Linked DNA regions of Homo sapiens: all the other regions are linked to region 2. Evidence: fine-mapped expression QTL. A gene starts in region 2. Each other region holds a variant in brackets. All regions are shown on one strand. Distances are from middle to middle.

Region 1 (5,221 bases), 44 kb before region 2:
TCCTGCCACTGGCTCAGCTGCTTGTCTTTTAGCCAAAAATCAAGCAGCCCCAGGAAAGATTCTGGTTGGCCAGGAGGTAGCTACCCTGGGGTAACTAGAAGGGGGATGGGAAAGTGGCTGTGGGCAGCTGAACTCCAGCTCCTGATGCCCTCTACCCAGGCCAAGGAATTTGACTTTATCGTGTAGGTCCTGGGGTTCTCAGCCTTTGAGCAGACACAGCAGAATCTGCATTCTCGAAAGCTGGCTGTTGGCAGGGAGAGGCCGTGATACTCATCCTGGGAGTGGGCTGCCGAGGGGCCATGGGCGTGCTGGGGAGTGACAAACACAAGAGCTATCTGGAAGCTGAGTCCACTTGGCTCCGTGGGCAGCTGTTTGCAAGGACATTGTTTATTCCCTGCCATGGTTAATAGTGAATTACCTAATCTTTCACAGGAAGAATTTACACCAGATGTCAACACCCCTGAAAGTAGCGAGGCATAAAACAGGGACGCCCTCATGACTAGGTTCGCCATTAGTGAGGAGGGGTGGCGGCCCGGCCACAGTGGGCTGTGACTCCTGGCCCGCCTGTGTAACTCAAACCCCTTCCCCAGCTGAAGGACAGGTGGACTGTGGCCCCAGCTCCCAGTGCCTAGCCGCTCCAGCTGGCAAGCCCCACGGCCCATCTGTAGTGTAGCGTGACAGAAAGCTGGGCACGGGAGGCCACGTTCATTAACGTGTGGTATCCTGGCCAGGTGGCTTCAAGCAGATGTCCCTTGTCAGATGAGGAATGGGAAAAGGGGAAATGTCCTGCCCTGTGGGTGAGGACACGCAGCATCTGGAACTCCTCATGAGGGTTTTGAGTGAGTGCTAGTGTGCGTTGTGGGACGTTCATGTCGGTGTTATCATGCAGGGGTTGGAGGCAAGAGAGACAAGCAGCAGGAGGGCTGGTGTCCCCAGTGGCCAAGTGCCCAGAGGCTTCCTGAGTCCCCAGCCAGGACTGACTCGAGCTCAAAGAATGAACAGCCAGAACCACAGGACAACTGGGACAGTCCGGAGCTGCCCCGGCCCCTCCTGCAGGCATTATTTGCTAGTTGGCTTTTTGCCTTCTGGCGTCCATCTTCCCGTCTTCCAGAACGGCAAGCTGACTGCATTCTGGAGAATGACCTCTGCCCCAGGGATGCGGTCCTGGAAGGTCTGTACATCAGCTCCTCCCTGGACCGGCATCTTGAGGGCGTGTCGGGAGGAGCTCAGACAGGCTGGAGCCGACCCCCTGTGGCAGCAGCGCCCGCAGTGACAGAATTGTCTTGACATCCATGACCCTTATTCCAAGGTCTCCCATTCTAGACTGGTCCTGCCTTCCTGTCATTTCTGCAAGCCACCTCATACGTTTCCAAAAAACCCCTCTTTAGGTGAGGCCGGCCGGGGCTGGCAGTGGCTGAACGTACTGGGCTTACCAATGGGCGTGTCTCTGCCCACTGACGAAGGGCTGGGCTGGGTCCCCGGCTGCCTCACTATGGGAAGGTGGGCTTGAGGGCTGAGGAGCCCAGACCTGGTTCTGGGAGGGTGAGCCTCCCACCAGCAGGGGTCATTGGTTCACTGAGCCTTGGATGCCTGCTCCACCCTGGGTTTATGGAGGTGAACAAAGTGGGGTGGTCCTGCCTGCAGCGGGGGAGGCCAGCCACCAATTCAGTGTCCAAGTTCACTCCCTGCTGCCCCTGAGGCTACTGAAGATGTGATCGCACCTTCGATATGCTTAGGGAAAGGCCCCTGCTCCCTCAGCCACGTGGCCTGAGAGGGACAGTCCCACCCCTCTCTCCGAGGTGGGTCTAATTTTCCAATGCCAGCTGGATAATCCCATCCCCACCTCACAGGTGTCCACGTGGGAGCTGTGGGCCATGAGGATGCTTGCAAGGATGTGGGAGCCACTAAGTGAGAGCCACCCTCTTCCTCCTGATCCCAGGCATGATGCGCGAGGCCCAGAGGCATGGCAGCTATTTTGCTACCATGAAGAAGGCAGCTGGATTTCTAGGAAACCACCTCGTAGGCCCCAAGCATGCAGCCAGCCCAGTGAAAGCACAGTAGACACAGAAATATGGCTGTGTGGTGACCTTGCTGGAGCCTCTAGACCAGGCATCTCCTCAAGACCCCTGTGGCCAAGTCCGTCCTTGTTTCAGCCAGTCTGAGTTGGCTTTTCTGTCATGACTGAAGCATCCTGACTGATGCTGGGGTTCAAGAGAGGGATGAAGATGGGGACTTAACAAGTGTGAGGATGGAGGAAGTGCAGGGAGCGAGGGGCTGACCAGTGCCAAAGGGCGAGCGGGTGCTAGCCAGGAAACAAAGCCAGACACCAGAGGGGAGGGCGCGCAGGCCCAGGGCGCTCTGTGTAGAGGCTCCGGAGCTGACGAAGGAAGCGCTGCACCCTGAGCAGTGGGTGGGGGGAGGCGGTGGCAGATGAGCAGGAGCCTCACCAGGGGTCACAGCCCTGCTGCAGCAGTGGGGGCATCCAGGGGTCTTCTGCAGGGAGCACAGAGGCAGAGTGTGGGCCGGGGCTGG[A/C]GCTCAGCCTGAGGCAGCAGTGGCAGGGCTAGAGGGCTATTGGCAGCTGGGCTGGACAGGATCTGGTGACAATGGGATGCAGGAGGGTCAGGGAGAGGAAGCACTGAGGCTGACTCCCAGTCCCGGCTGGGACAGCTGGATGGCAGGGCTGCCGGGCACCCACAGGGAGCAGAGCGTCCAGGGAGGGAGAGCACGCATCCCGCCCAAACGCCCAGCCTCAGCCCATTCAGGCCAGTGGCACCTTGGGCCAGGGGAGAGTCCAGACTGGGGAGCTGGGGAGGCCAAGGCTCACACATCCAGGTTCGGGCCAGCCCAGTCCTGCTGGGACAGCTGGCCACCGCTGGGACTGGAGGCAAGGCTGCCCTGGGCAAGGACAGTGAGCTGTTCTGAGTCATTGCTGGGGGCTCTTGCTGGCTTCACCTGCTGGAGCCCAAACCCAGGGGGTCTGAGTGACGACCGAACTCCAGGAAAGGCAAGGCCCCAACACGGAGCCTCACACACGGGCTCGAGAACACAGACGGGCTGCAGCAACTTCCCAGGATGGTTTATTCCAAAGCTGTGGACGGTGAACATTAAGACGAAAGAGGTGACTCGCGTGGAACCTGAAACACGGACGCCTTTCTTCCAAGAAGGGCTGTGGCGATCAGGCCACTCAAGGCAGCCAGCCCCTCAGCAGGGCACGATGGCTAATGCTGCCTGGACCGCAGGGACTTTTTGTTCGATTTCAAGACACCAGACTCCCTCTCCTTCTCAGGGTCGAAGACTTCTGTAGACAGAAAAGGCAGGAAAGACACAGTGAATGGAGGGGCTGGCAGCACAGGGGCACCAGCTGGAGCCAGCAGCTACGTCTCCTGTGCCAAGGACTGTCCTAGGTCTACACCATCCTTCACTGCTAACCCTCCCCAGCCCGTGAGGAAGGCAGAGTTAGCCCCAGTTCAGAGAGGAACAAACTGAGGGAGCTGTGGACATAGCTTTCACGTCCCCCTCCTGAGAGGGCTGCCAGAGAGAGAGCCTTGTCTAGACAAAATGCTCATACACGTTGGAATTTCAGCTGGGTTCTAGAAAGTCCTCTGGAGCGGTGCACGTAGCTCAGCCTTTACTTCCTGCAGTGGCTTCTTCTAGGATTCAAGCTGCTAACACGGACCCCCACACACCCTGGAGCCCTTCAGGGCCCTGTCTCCAAGGGCTTCCCTGGCACCAGGCCCCACGTCCTGCTGGCCCAGCCCCTCCCATGAGCTCCTCAGGGCCCACGCACTTGGGATCTCGTGGGGCCAGTAGTCGTTGCAGTGGGGGCAGCGCGGTTCAGCATTCGACTGGAAGTACTTGGCCACGCAGGGTAAGTGCATCCTGATCCCACAGGTTTCGCAGCTTTGACCCTGAAACAGGAAAGGCCAATGACGGCGGAGCTGGTGCACACCTCCATGTTCTGCAAACCTCCGGGGAAGCCACAAGGGAAATGGGCAGCAGGTGGCATCGTGTTATCTTCTGGGCCCCAGATTAATATTGAAAATAATCCCAAACGCCTTAGTGCAGTGGAGTCTTTTGTTTGCTTGCTGCTTGTTGCGGTGGGTTTTACTAAACAATTCTGAACACATGAACGCAGTGACAGAAGCCGAGGGCTCCCAAACTCCTGCACTCAGATCCTGCAGGTGGCGTGTGGACAGCCACAGCTTTTCAGAAGCTTATTTGCTAATGTGAATCAAAAGCTTTCAAAAAAAAAGTGCACTTTGTCCCAGAAACTCCGCCCAAGGAAATAATCACCAGGTGCCCAAGGATACAGGTGTACGAGGCCCGTAAGAGCAATTGCAATTACAAACAGCTACAGCTGCAAAACGATAGAAACTGAAAGACACATCAATGTCCACGCTGGTTCAGCGGTTGCAAAGCCCTGCAAACCAGTGTTAAGACCACTCCAGAAAGCAGCAATCGACAAGAGACACTCACTACAAAACTACCAAGATGATGCAGGTTGCACAGAACACTCAGCCTTCCTGAGAAAAATAAAGTAAGCGAGGGCCCTTGGACCCCAACAGCAGAACCAGGGAGGAGGGCGGCAGTGCGTCCCTGCGGGGCACAGCAGGGAGGCGTCCTGACACGTCCTGGGAGATGGCCTCCGCCAGCTCTTGTGGGAGGATGCGCCAGCAGTGCAGGAGGGCTGGGCCCAGAGCCAGGATTCCGGGAAGTACCTGTACAGAGCCCCGGGAGCCGAGGGCCCAGTGATGAGCTCCCGTGCCCTGCCCTGCGGGTACCTGGATGAGGAGGCTGTGACAGATATTGCAGATCTTCACCGCGTCGGGGTACGTCTCCCGGATGTATTGCTCCATCTCCAGGATGGCCCGGCCGTGCAGGGTGAACTCCCCTTCCTTCTGCAGGGACACACAGGAGGTGGCCACCCTCAGCCAGGCCCTCTCCCCATTCACCACCTCTCTTCCCTCTGTGATCCCACAGCCCAGTGCTCAGGAAGACACAAGGGTCTACGCAGCTTTTCACCAACCCCAGCCAACGGGCATCAGCCACATCCCCCTGGCAGAGCCTCGGCAAGGGAAACTGAGGCAAAGACCCTAAAGACATGGAGGCGTGGCTCCCTGACACCCGCCTTTTCTCAGCATCTGCTGTGCCTTCAGACGTGACTTCTCTGTCTGCACGGCAGCCTCGAGGGAGGCAGTCACAGCCCTCCTGCAGATGAGGA
Region 2 (5,221 bases):
AGGTATGTTACATACAATGTTTTTAAATGTGATGGGCTGGGCATGGTGATTCACACCTGTAATCTCAATACTTTGGGAGGTCAAGGCGGGAGGACTGCTTGAGGCCAGGAGTTTAAGACCAGCCTGGGCAACATAGCAAGATCCACTCTCAACAACAACAACAACAACAAAATAATGTGAATATGTTAAATAACAGCCAAAATAAATGTAAATGAGAATGAGAACAGGATAGGATTGAATGCTATAATTTGGTGGAAAAGGAGTGGGAAAAGTAGGAGTGGAAGAAAGACAACCATAAGCTTGTTTATGCATATTATGTCCCTTGTCTCTATGAGAAGAGACTGTAGGGAGAATGGTGGGATTAGCATAGACATGTATTACCTACTTAAATAATTTTATTTTATACAAAAATCAGCCAGGCGTGGTGGTGCACGCCTGTAATCCCAGCTACTCAGAAGGCTAAGGCAGGAGAATCGCTTGAACCCAGGAGGTGGAGGTTGCAGTGAGCCAAGATCGCGTCACTGCACTCTAGCCTGGGCGACAGGGCGAGACTCTGTCACAAAAAGAAAAAAAAAATTACTTTTTTTAAAAAAATTAATTAAAACAGTTTATTGGCTTTAAATGTACATCAGTAAATTTTTAAATGCTAAAAAGTTATGATAAAATAATACAGAACCAAAACATCAAAGAAAATAGAGGCTCAGCAGCATGATTTCAATATATTTTCCCGGATAAACAGATTTTTTTTCTAAGTATATGCCTTTTTATTCAAGAACAAAAACTCCCTAAATTCAATGTTTAGAACTGAATTTTTTTTAACTAAGCCCAGAAAACTGGGGCTCATAAAATAAGGCATAATGTGGGCAGCAAAAGAAAAAAGGAGAAAAAAAATGGGAGAAAAATTGGTTTTAATCCCATGTATAATATAGGTTGGCTGGTTTTGTTTTTGTTTTAGCCAATTTAAGGCAGAATTATCTCTCTGCAACCTTGCAGATAAATCCTAGTGTTTTAGCCATAAGTTTCAAGAGTTCATATATACAGATAAACCAATTAAAAAAACCTTTTCGAAGGCTTTTGAAGCATTATATAAATCTTTAAAATTCCTATCACCCACATTTTAAGAAATACATCTATACGTTTAAATTTATTATTAAATTAATTAAATGCATTAATTAAATCAATTTATTTAAATTTAATAATTTTAAAATAGAAATGTTTGTGGAATAAGTAAATCTCAGTCATACCATTCGTGCGGGTGCTAACACAATTCTAGTGCTTCACATGCCCGACCTCATTTAACCCAAACCAGAACAACCTTATGAGCAAAGGGTCACTGACCCCATCTTACAGATGAGGAAACTGAGACTAAGAGGGCACAAGGTGACACACAAGAGTTGGTGGCAGAGATAGACGTGACCATACAACAGCACAGTTCCTGTTTTCAAGGACACTCTCTATCCAGCGAGAGTGAGAAAAGTGAGTGAACAGAACAACTACAATCCAGGTCCCTCATCTGCAACCCTCAAATCTAAAAAGGTATGAATACTAGTGGATGATCGGATGCAGGGGAAAAAAAAAAAAAAGTCTGAATACCAAAACTTGTTTAAGTTGGAAAACTTGACCTGACTTAAGGTGAGGCTATTTATGGTTATTTATCCCAACAGTGTAAATATATGCATTTTTTTTTTTGAGACGGAGTTTCGCTCTTGTTGCCCAAGCTGGAGTGAAGTGGCACGATCTTGATTCACTGCAACCTCCGCCTCCCGGGTTCAAGCGATTCTCCTGCCTCAGCCTTCCGTCTCAGCCTCCCGAGTAGCTGGGATTACAGGCACGCACCACCACGCCCGGCTAATTTTTTGTATTTTTAGTAGAGACAGGGTTTCACCATATTAGCCAGGCTGGTTTCGAACTCCGAACCTCAGGTGATCCGCCCCCCTCAGCTTCCCAAAGTGCTGGAATTATAGCCGTGGGCCACCGCGACCAGGTCAATGTAATATATGCGTATCTTCATAACTTTAGCTGTGGAAAGGGTCGTGTATTTGATTACAAGCCGCTGCTCCAGCCCCCTCTGAGGGTGAAACCTAACATAGAACATAGGGACTTTACCTTTCCAAACTCCGAGAACTCCTCGATTTTAAACGCATCTGGCCTCGGGGCTGTAACATAAGCGGCTGCGGACTTGTACAAAGTAAGAAACTCCGTACACAAAACAGAGGGGAGCACGGAGGGCGGCGGGACAAAGAGGGTGGTCGGCAAAGGCTGTATTTTCCATAGATGTAATCACAGTTTGAATCGAATTTTATATTTTGCTTTTTCACCTGTTACAATGAAAAGTATCTTTACCTGTTAAATCGTAATTACGATTAAAAATATTTTTCACTAAATAGTAAGATTTTTAGATGTCTGCGTGTGTGTTGCGGGAGGACATCCCAGTCCGCTGTTTTCTGCGGCCCCTGTCTGGGCCTCAGTTTCCCCATCAAGAAGGGGGAAACCCCAAGACCCCAGTCCCCGAGTTCCACAGCCCACGGGGACCGACCCCGGGGCCGGACCCCACTGCCTGTCTCGCCCACCCCACCTTCCGTCCTCCCCTCGCCTTCCTTGAAGTCCCTCTTCTTTCCCCTCCAACCCCTAGCTCCCCACGTTACCCACCAGGGAGCCCAAGCGCATCCCAGGCCGCGCTAGCGGATACGGTCGCAAGGTGGACTCTTCTTCCTTTGAGGCGGGGCGAACGCGAACGCGGCGTTCCCATTGGTGGCCTGCGGCTTATTCGCCCGTCCGTTGAGTGACGCACTTCCGGTTCTCCGTTTGCGCCATTGCCCTGGTGGTTCCGCCTCGTGGGTTAGATCCCAAATTACGCCCGCTCTCGATCCTTAATAATGGGAAGGGGCTTCCACTTGTCGCCCTCCGCCTCCTGCACCTCAGTGACTTCCCTGACCAAGGAGGAAGAATTGGCGTGCAGCCTGGGCTTCCCTCAATGGCCACCATTCCGCTGGCACAATGTAGTGCCCTGCCCCGGGCCTCAGTTTCCCCATCTGTGGAACTGAGTGTGGCCTCGACGTCAAAAATGTGGACTCTGGTCCGGTCGCGGTGGCTCACGCCTGTAAGTAATCCCAGCACTTTGGGAGACCAAGGCGGGCCGATCACTTGAGGTCAGGAGTTCGAGACCAGCTTGGCCAACATGGTGAAACCCCCGTCCCTACTAAAAATACAAAAAGTAGCCGGGCGTGGTGGTGTGTGCCTGTAATCCCAGCTACCCGGGAGGCTGAGGCAGGAGAATCACTTGAACCCGAGAGGCAGAGGTTGCAGTGAGCCAGATCGTACCACAGCACTCGAGCCTGGGTGACAGAGCTCAAAAAAAAAGAAAAGAAAAATGTGGACTCTGTGGTCATAGAGCCTGATCTAGAATCCTGGCTCTGCCACTTACTAGTTGGCAGGCGCTTGGGCAAGTCACTGAGCCTCAGTTTCCTCTTCCATTAAATGAGGATATTAGTTCTTGCAAAATAGTGTTGGTGAGATTTACAAGAGATAATAACACCTATATCAGGTGCTTAGCATGGCCATTGAAAAGTGTCACATGGGAGTGCTGATTATATGTTAACTGTTATCTTACCTAGGGATTGTGAGAAAGCAAGTGAAATTACTCGTGGAAGTGAATGGACTGCTTTGAGTCTTCAAGGCGTTAATTTTCCAAACGTTTGAATTCTATCCCTGGTCTGAGAGCTAGGGATGCAGCCTAGCAAGGGAAACAGGTAACTAATATAGAACAGCAGTACCTGCAAATATCTGTCTCTGTGAGGATAGATCAAATCCAGGCTTGGTCACTCACCACCCCTGTGATCTTGGACAACCTCTTAACCTCTCTGGGCTTCAGTTTCATCTGCTAAGTGGGAAAGCAGTGGTGTGTGGTGATTAAAAGCTTCAGCTTTGGAGCTGGATGGTCAACATGGAATCCTGGGCCTTAAACTCAGTGTCTCTGAGACATAGGACAAAGTACAGTCAGCTGTCCATGTTTACAGGTTCCCCATCTACGGATTGAAGCAACTGTGGGTGGTTAATATTTGTGGGGGAAAACAGTAAAAAATAACAGTTCAACAATAAAAATAATACAGATTCCGAAAGCAATACAGCATAGCAATTACTTATATAGCATTTACATTGTATTAAGTATTGTAAGTAATTTAAAGATGATTTTCAATATACTGGAGGATTTGTGTAGGTTAAATGCAAGTATTCTCGCATTTTGTAAGCACCCAATGGTTCTCCTTGCCTGCTTCCTAGACAGAACCAATTTATCAAGACAGGGGAATTGCAATAGAGAAAGTTTAATTCACACAGAGCTGGCTGAACAGGAGACCACAGTTTTATTATTACTCAAATCAGTCTCCCTGGAAATTCAGGGTTTTCAAGGATAATTTGGTGGCTGGAGGTGCTGGGGATTAGAGAGTGTTGATAGGTTGGATCAGAGAGGAAAGGAGTCAAAGCTGTCCTCTTGCACTGAGTCAGATCCTGGGTTAGGACCATAGGACCAGATTAGCCAGATTACAGGGCTGGGTGGCGTCAGCTGGTGCATTAGAACACGGGTTCTGCAAAATATCTCAAGCACTGATTTTAGGTTTTAGAACAGTGATGTTACTCCCGGAAGCAATCTGGGGAGGGTCAGAATCTTGTAGCCTCCAGCTTGCGTGACCTCCTAAACCATAATTTCTAATCTTTTAGCTAATTTGTTAGTCTACAAAGGCAGACCCGTTCCTAGGCAAGGAGGGGATTTGTTTTGGGAAAGGGCTATTATTGCCTTTGTTTCAAAGTTAAACTATAAACTAAGTTCTTTCCAACATTAATTCCACCTATGTCCAGGAATGATCAAGGACAGCTTGGAAGTTAGAAGCAAGATGGAGTCAGGCCAGATCTCTTTCACTATCATAATTTTCTCAGTTATGCTTTTTACAAAGGTGGTTTTGATTTTACATAAGGGACTTGAGCATCGAGAATTTTGGTATCCATGGGGACTAAGGTACCAATCCCTCACAGATACTAAGGGATGACTGAGCTCAAGTTTTCAGCTTCAGTTTGCTCATCTATAAAGCAGGTTTAATAATAACACTTTGTTGATAATGTTATTCTGAAGATTAAAGGAAGAGTAAACGTAAACTACTTAGAAGAGTGTCTCTGGCACATTGTAAGCCCTCAATAAGTGTGAACTAACACCACTAATAAGTTCTTT
Region 3 (5,221 bases), 57 kb before region 2:
CCACCTTTAATCTCCTGAGTAGCTGGGACCACAGGCATGTACCGCCGTGCCCAACTAATTTTTGTATTTTTTGTAGAGACGGCGTCTTGCCATGTTGGCCAGGCTGGTCTTGAATTCCTGAGCTCAAGTGATCCAATTGCCTCGGCCTCCCAAAGTGCTGGGATTACAGGCGTGAGCCACCATGCCGGCCTTCTCGAATACTTTTCAAAGCCTGGCACTCCTGAGTGACTGCCATGAGGCAGACTCTGCTTTTAGGCTCTGGGAAACGTAGGGGAATGAGCTACGTTCTTGCCCTGGTGGAGCTGGCAGTGCAGTGTTGGATAGACACACGTGTAAGCAGGTGTTTTCATACATCCTGACGAGTACTGTAAGAGAAGCTCAAGGGCTGCAGGAACACAGAACACTGTTGGAGAGTCTTGGCAGGCCTCACATAGGGATATTTAAGATGGGCTTTAAAGGTTGGGTAGGAGTTTGCCAGGCAGCGGAGGGGTATGGGAGGCACTGCAGATGAGGACAATACACGTTCCTTTCTGAACAGACGTTTATCCAGTGCTTGCTGAGTACCAGGTGTTGCGCCAGGCCCTGAAGATACAGTGGTGACCCCAGACAGATGAGGGCCCTCCCCTCCAGAGCTTCTGCCCAACAGAGAAGACTGCTGTTGAAAAATCCTCGCAGATGAGATGCAGGAAGCTGCGGGAATGCACAGGGGATCAGGTCTGTCCTGGTGTCTAACTCTTGTTTCTCTCCACCTCCCCAGGCACGGGACTGAACCAGCTGGTGGTGGCCCGATGGCTGGAGACACCCACTGCCCCGCAGAGCCCCTGGCCAGAGAAGGCACTTTATGGGAGGCCCTCAGGGCGCTCCTGCCGCACAGTAAAGAAGACCTGAAGTTGGACCTCGGGGAGAAAGTGGAGAGGAGCGTGGTGACATTGTTGCAGCGAGCCACTGAGCTCTTCTACGAGGGCAGGAGGGACGAGTGTCTGCAGAGCAGCGAGGTGATCCTGGACTACTCCTGGGAGAAGCTCAACACGGGCACATGGCAGGACGTAGACAAAGACTGGCGCCGGGTCTACGCCATCGGCTGCCTCCTGAAAGCCCTGTGTCTGTGCCAGGCACCTGAGGATGCCAACACTGTGGCCGCAGCCCTGCGGGTCTGTGACATGGGCCTGCTGATGGGGGCAGCCATCCTGGGGGACATCCTTCTTAAAGTCGCTGCCATCCTCCAGACACACCTCCCTGGAAAGAGGCCTGCCCGTGGCTCCCTCCCAGAGCAACCCTGCACAAAGGTATGTGGGGGAGATTCTCCCCAAGCACACTAGCCATCCAGCAACCCTGTTGTTCTAGAAATTCCGAGTCATCTCTCCCCTGGGGTGAGGCCTCGTGGCCTGCAACCCCTCTGGTGGAAAACAGCATTGCCATTGATTTTGGATTTCTGTTTGTTTTTGGAAGCAGGGTCCCGTTCTGTCGCCCAGGCTGGAGTGCAGTAGTGTGATCTCGGCTCCTTGCAGCCTCCACTTCCTGGACTCAAGCAATCCTTCTGCCTCAGCCTCCTTAGTAGCTGGAACTATGGGTGCATGGCACCACACCCAGCTAATTTTTTTAGTTTCTTATTTATTTTTTATTTTTTGTAGAGATAGGGTCTCATGTTTCTCAGGCTAATCTGGAACTCCTGGCCTAAAGCAGTCCTCCTGTCGTGGCCTCCCGAAGCACTGAGATTACAGGTGTGAGCCACCGTGCTCAGCCCCCATTGACTTTGGAAATGGAACAGCTCCATTCATTTTCTCTCTTTTTTTTTTTTTTTTTTGCAAAGGCAGCGCCCTTTCAGCAGAGAGGCAGCAGAGAAACTTCGTGGTTCCTGAGGGAAACAGCTTAAAGCGATTGTGTGGGTGAGAGCTGCAGCCAGCGGCAGCCCGTTTCTTTCAGCTTCTTGGTGGGCTTGCTGAAGTCTCACCCAGGCGAGGCGATACCTCCAGCTGCTCCTGTCTCTCTGCTCCTGGGTTTGGATGAGATACTACAACTAGCTGATGTCTGTTTTGGGGTCAATCTCTCCCACCCCTTGGGTCTATGTGCCTGTTCCAAAGAGCACCCCCAGGAACAGAGCATGGTTTACTCTGAAGGCTTCAGGTCCTGGTGCCAACACACAGGCCTCACTT[G/A]CAACACACCCAAGCAAGTCACTTAACCTCCTTTGAGCCTCGGTTTCCTTGTCTGTAGAGTGGCAGAGTACTGACCCACAGAAAGAAATGACTAAGACTGTACTAGACACTTGGTAGTGGAATTATGGGATGTTTCTGACATTTTTCTAAATGCTTTGCTATGTTTTCCGAATTTCCTACAATGCATATTATTATTATTATTATTTTTGAGACGGAGTCTCACTCTGTCACCCCGGCTGGAGTGCAGTGGCGCAATCTCAGCTCCCTGCAACCTCTGCCTCCCAGGTTCAAATGATTCTCCTGCCTCAGTCTCCCAAGTAGCTGGGATTATAGGCACCCACCACCACGCCCGGCAATTTTTGTATTTTTAATAGAGACAGGGTTTCACCATGTTGGCCAGGCTTGTCTGGACCTCAGGTGATCCACCCACCTCAGCCTCCTAAGTGCTGGGATTACAGGCGTGAGCCACAAATTATTTTTATATAAGAAAAATGCAAGTGGTTGACACTAAACACACAGGCATGTAACCAAAATAAAAGAAAATCAAATAAAGGGAGAAGAAAATTTTTCCACAAATATGTCAGACAATGAATATCTCTATTACGTAAGGAATGGTACAAATCAATAGGGAAAAAATCTTGAGCCCCAGGAGGTAGAAATCCAGGAACCTGAACAGACTGTTCACAAGAAGGAAATAGATCTGTTAAACAAATGTGCAGGAGAATGTTCAGCCTCACCTCTGGTTAAAAAAATAAAAGAGAGAGATGCAAATAGCAAAACAGCATTTCATCTTTGGCTGTTAAGTTAGCAAACAAGGCTTCATATGATACCCGGTGTTGCCAAGGGCACCATGTGGCCAAGGGCATGGGGTGTGGGTTGCTCTTTTGTTTCATTTTTTTTACAGACAGGGTCTTGCCCAGTCACCCACGCTGGAGTGCAGTGGCACAATCATAGCTCTCTGCAGGCCGGGCATGGTGGCTCACGCCTATAATCCCAGCACTTTGGGAGGCTGAGGCCGGCAGATCACCTGAGGTCAAGAGTTCGAGACCAGCCTGGCCCACATGGTGAAACCTCATATCTACTAAAAATACAAAAATTTGCTGGGCGTCCTGGCACATGCCTGTAATCCCAGCTACTCTGCAGGCTGAGGCAGGAGAATTGTTTGAACCCGTGAGGCAGAGGTTGTAGTGAGCCGAGATTGTGCCACCGCACTCCAGCCTGGGCAACAGAGCAAGACTCGGTCTCAATAAATAAATAAATAAATAAAACATAGCTCACTGCAGCCTCGACCTCCTAGGCTTAGGTGATTTCTCCTACCTCAGCTTCCCGAGTGGCTGGGACTACAGGCATGTACCACCACGCCGAGCTTTTTAAATTTTTTCTAGAGCCAGAGGTTTCTCTATGTTGCCCAGGCTCGTTTCAAACTCCTGGGCTCAAGCAGTCCTTCCACCTTGGTCTCCCAAAGTGCTGGGATTACAGGTATGAGCCAGTGTGGCTGGCCATTTCCCAGCAGGTTCACACCTGTGGACACTGAGGTTCTCAAGCAGCAAGTAACTTACTCAGGTCACCCAGCTGGGAGATGGTTAAGGAAATGATGGTGCAGCCACTCCTAAGAAACTGTAAGGACCGGGTGGCCATGTGGAAACTGCTTTTGATAAATGATTGGAGGGGAGAGGCAGGGCTGCTGCTTCATCATTGCTGTTACTCCCAGTGGGTCAGAGATATTTTGCGTGTGTGTGTGTGTGTGTGTGTGTGTGTGTGTGTGTGTGTGTGTAAGATGGGAAAAGAATAGGAATGAGAAGACCTTAAGATGGTGAAGTTGGAGATAGTAAGTTTTCCTTTATTGCAGAATGTCTGTGAAAGCAGTTTATAATGAAACAAACATTTTTGATGAAATGGTTAAGAAAAAAACCACCTTGATCTCATGAGGAGCAAATAGTAATAGTAGCAGTAATAATAACAAACGTTGTCTATTGTTGTTACTGGTACTCTTGACAGCTAAGCTCTCCTACCCCTGACACAGGTTCCTGGTGGAATACCTCAAATGTCGACTTCCTGAGGTGGTTGCTATTTTGTTCTGTTTTGATTTTAAACAGAAAGCAAGGGCGGACCATGGTTTGATTCCAGATGTGAAGTTAGAAAAAACAGTCCCCCGGCTGCACCGTCCGTCCCTCCAGCATTTCAGGGAGCAGTTTTTGGTTCCAGGGAGGCCCGTGATCCTGAAAGGCGTGGCTGACCACTGGCCGTGCATGCAGAAGTGGAGGTGGGTGGTCGCTGAGGGAGGTGAGGTCCCTTTTCCCATTTTAGCGTTCCCCAGGGCTCCCTGAATTCCTCCCGACCATCCCCAGGGAAATGCAACCTTGTAGATGCTTCACTAGCAGCCCTTGACTGATTGCCAAGGGGTTAAAAAAGAGTGAAAAGTAAGGTGCTCTGAATTTATGCCGCAGGTTATGGGATTCTTACCTTCTACCTTGCTCGCCTTAAGCGGTTTTTTAATGAGTCCCTAAGTGGCAGTCCTAGAATGTTTCTGTTATGCAATTTTACAGGATCCTAGCAATTTCAGACCATCTCAGGGCCCTGAAGCTAAGAGCAGAAATAACCCAAGAGACAGCCCCTCTCTCTCTGAGGGATTCTGTGGTCTCTTGTGTTTGTTTCTAGTCCTTTCTCAGAATCATGATGGGGAGATCAGATCAGGCAGCTGGAGCGTGGCTGTCATGCCGCGGCTCTGCATGAGTTTGGAAATAAGGAGGCATCTCTCCAGGAAGGTAGATGGAGTCCGCCTGTTTTGTGGTTTCGCGGAGGGAATGGTACCCGCTGACACATGTGGAGGAATTCTCATTGCAGGAGCTCTCCTCACAGCAAGGCTTCATTAAGCATTTTACTACGTACCTGGCACTAGGACAGGTGTTGTCATCACCCCCATTCTGTAAATGGGGATCAAGGACTCGGGTTCAGTAACCTGCCTCAGATCCCCTGGCCTGTAACTGATGAGGCCTGGAATCAGTCCCAGGCTAGAGGGCAGAGTCCAGGAGACTGCCACCTGCCACGCTGTCCGCTATTTGTTCAAA

Evidence for each region.
Region 1: its variant is fine-mapped to the expression of NSMCE1 in T cells (TOPMed, PIP above 0.99). The same link has a PIP of 0.9 or more in whole blood.
Region 3: its variant is fine-mapped to the expression of NSMCE1 in whole blood (TOPMed, PIP 0.98).

What each region holds. Positions count from the first base shown.
Region 1 is chr16:27,221,939-27,227,159 of GRCh38, forward strand. It overlaps NSMCE1 (NSE1 component of SMC5/6 complex), which reads right to left. Exons shown (of 8, transcript NM_145080.4): 6 at 4,782-4,898; 7 at 3,788-3,908; 8 at 3,056-3,298. The coding sequence ends at 3,219. Among named protein-coding and RNA genes, the nearest start is that of KDM8, 21 kb to the left of the region's middle. RefSeq lists an enhancer at 457-1,142. The variant A/C (reference allele first, on the strand shown) is at 2,533.
Region 2 is chr16:27,266,057-27,271,277 of GRCh38, forward strand. NSMCE1 (NSE1 component of SMC5/6 complex) reads right to left here and starts at 2,716. Exons shown (of 8, transcript NM_145080.4): 1 at 2,650-2,716. It overlaps NSMCE1-DT (NSMCE1 divergent transcript), which reads left to right and starts at 2,149. Exons shown (of 5, transcript NR_037184.1): 1 at 2,149-2,188. RefSeq lists a silencer at 2,610-2,689.
Region 3 is chr16:27,209,336-27,214,556 of GRCh38, forward strand. It overlaps KDM8 (lysine demethylase 8), which reads left to right. Exons shown (of 8, transcript NM_024773.3): 2 at 758-1,286; 3 at 4,250-4,416. The coding sequence starts at 789. Among named protein-coding and RNA genes, the nearest start is that of KDM8, 8.4 kb to the left of the region's middle. The variant G/A (reference allele first, on the strand shown) is at 2,154.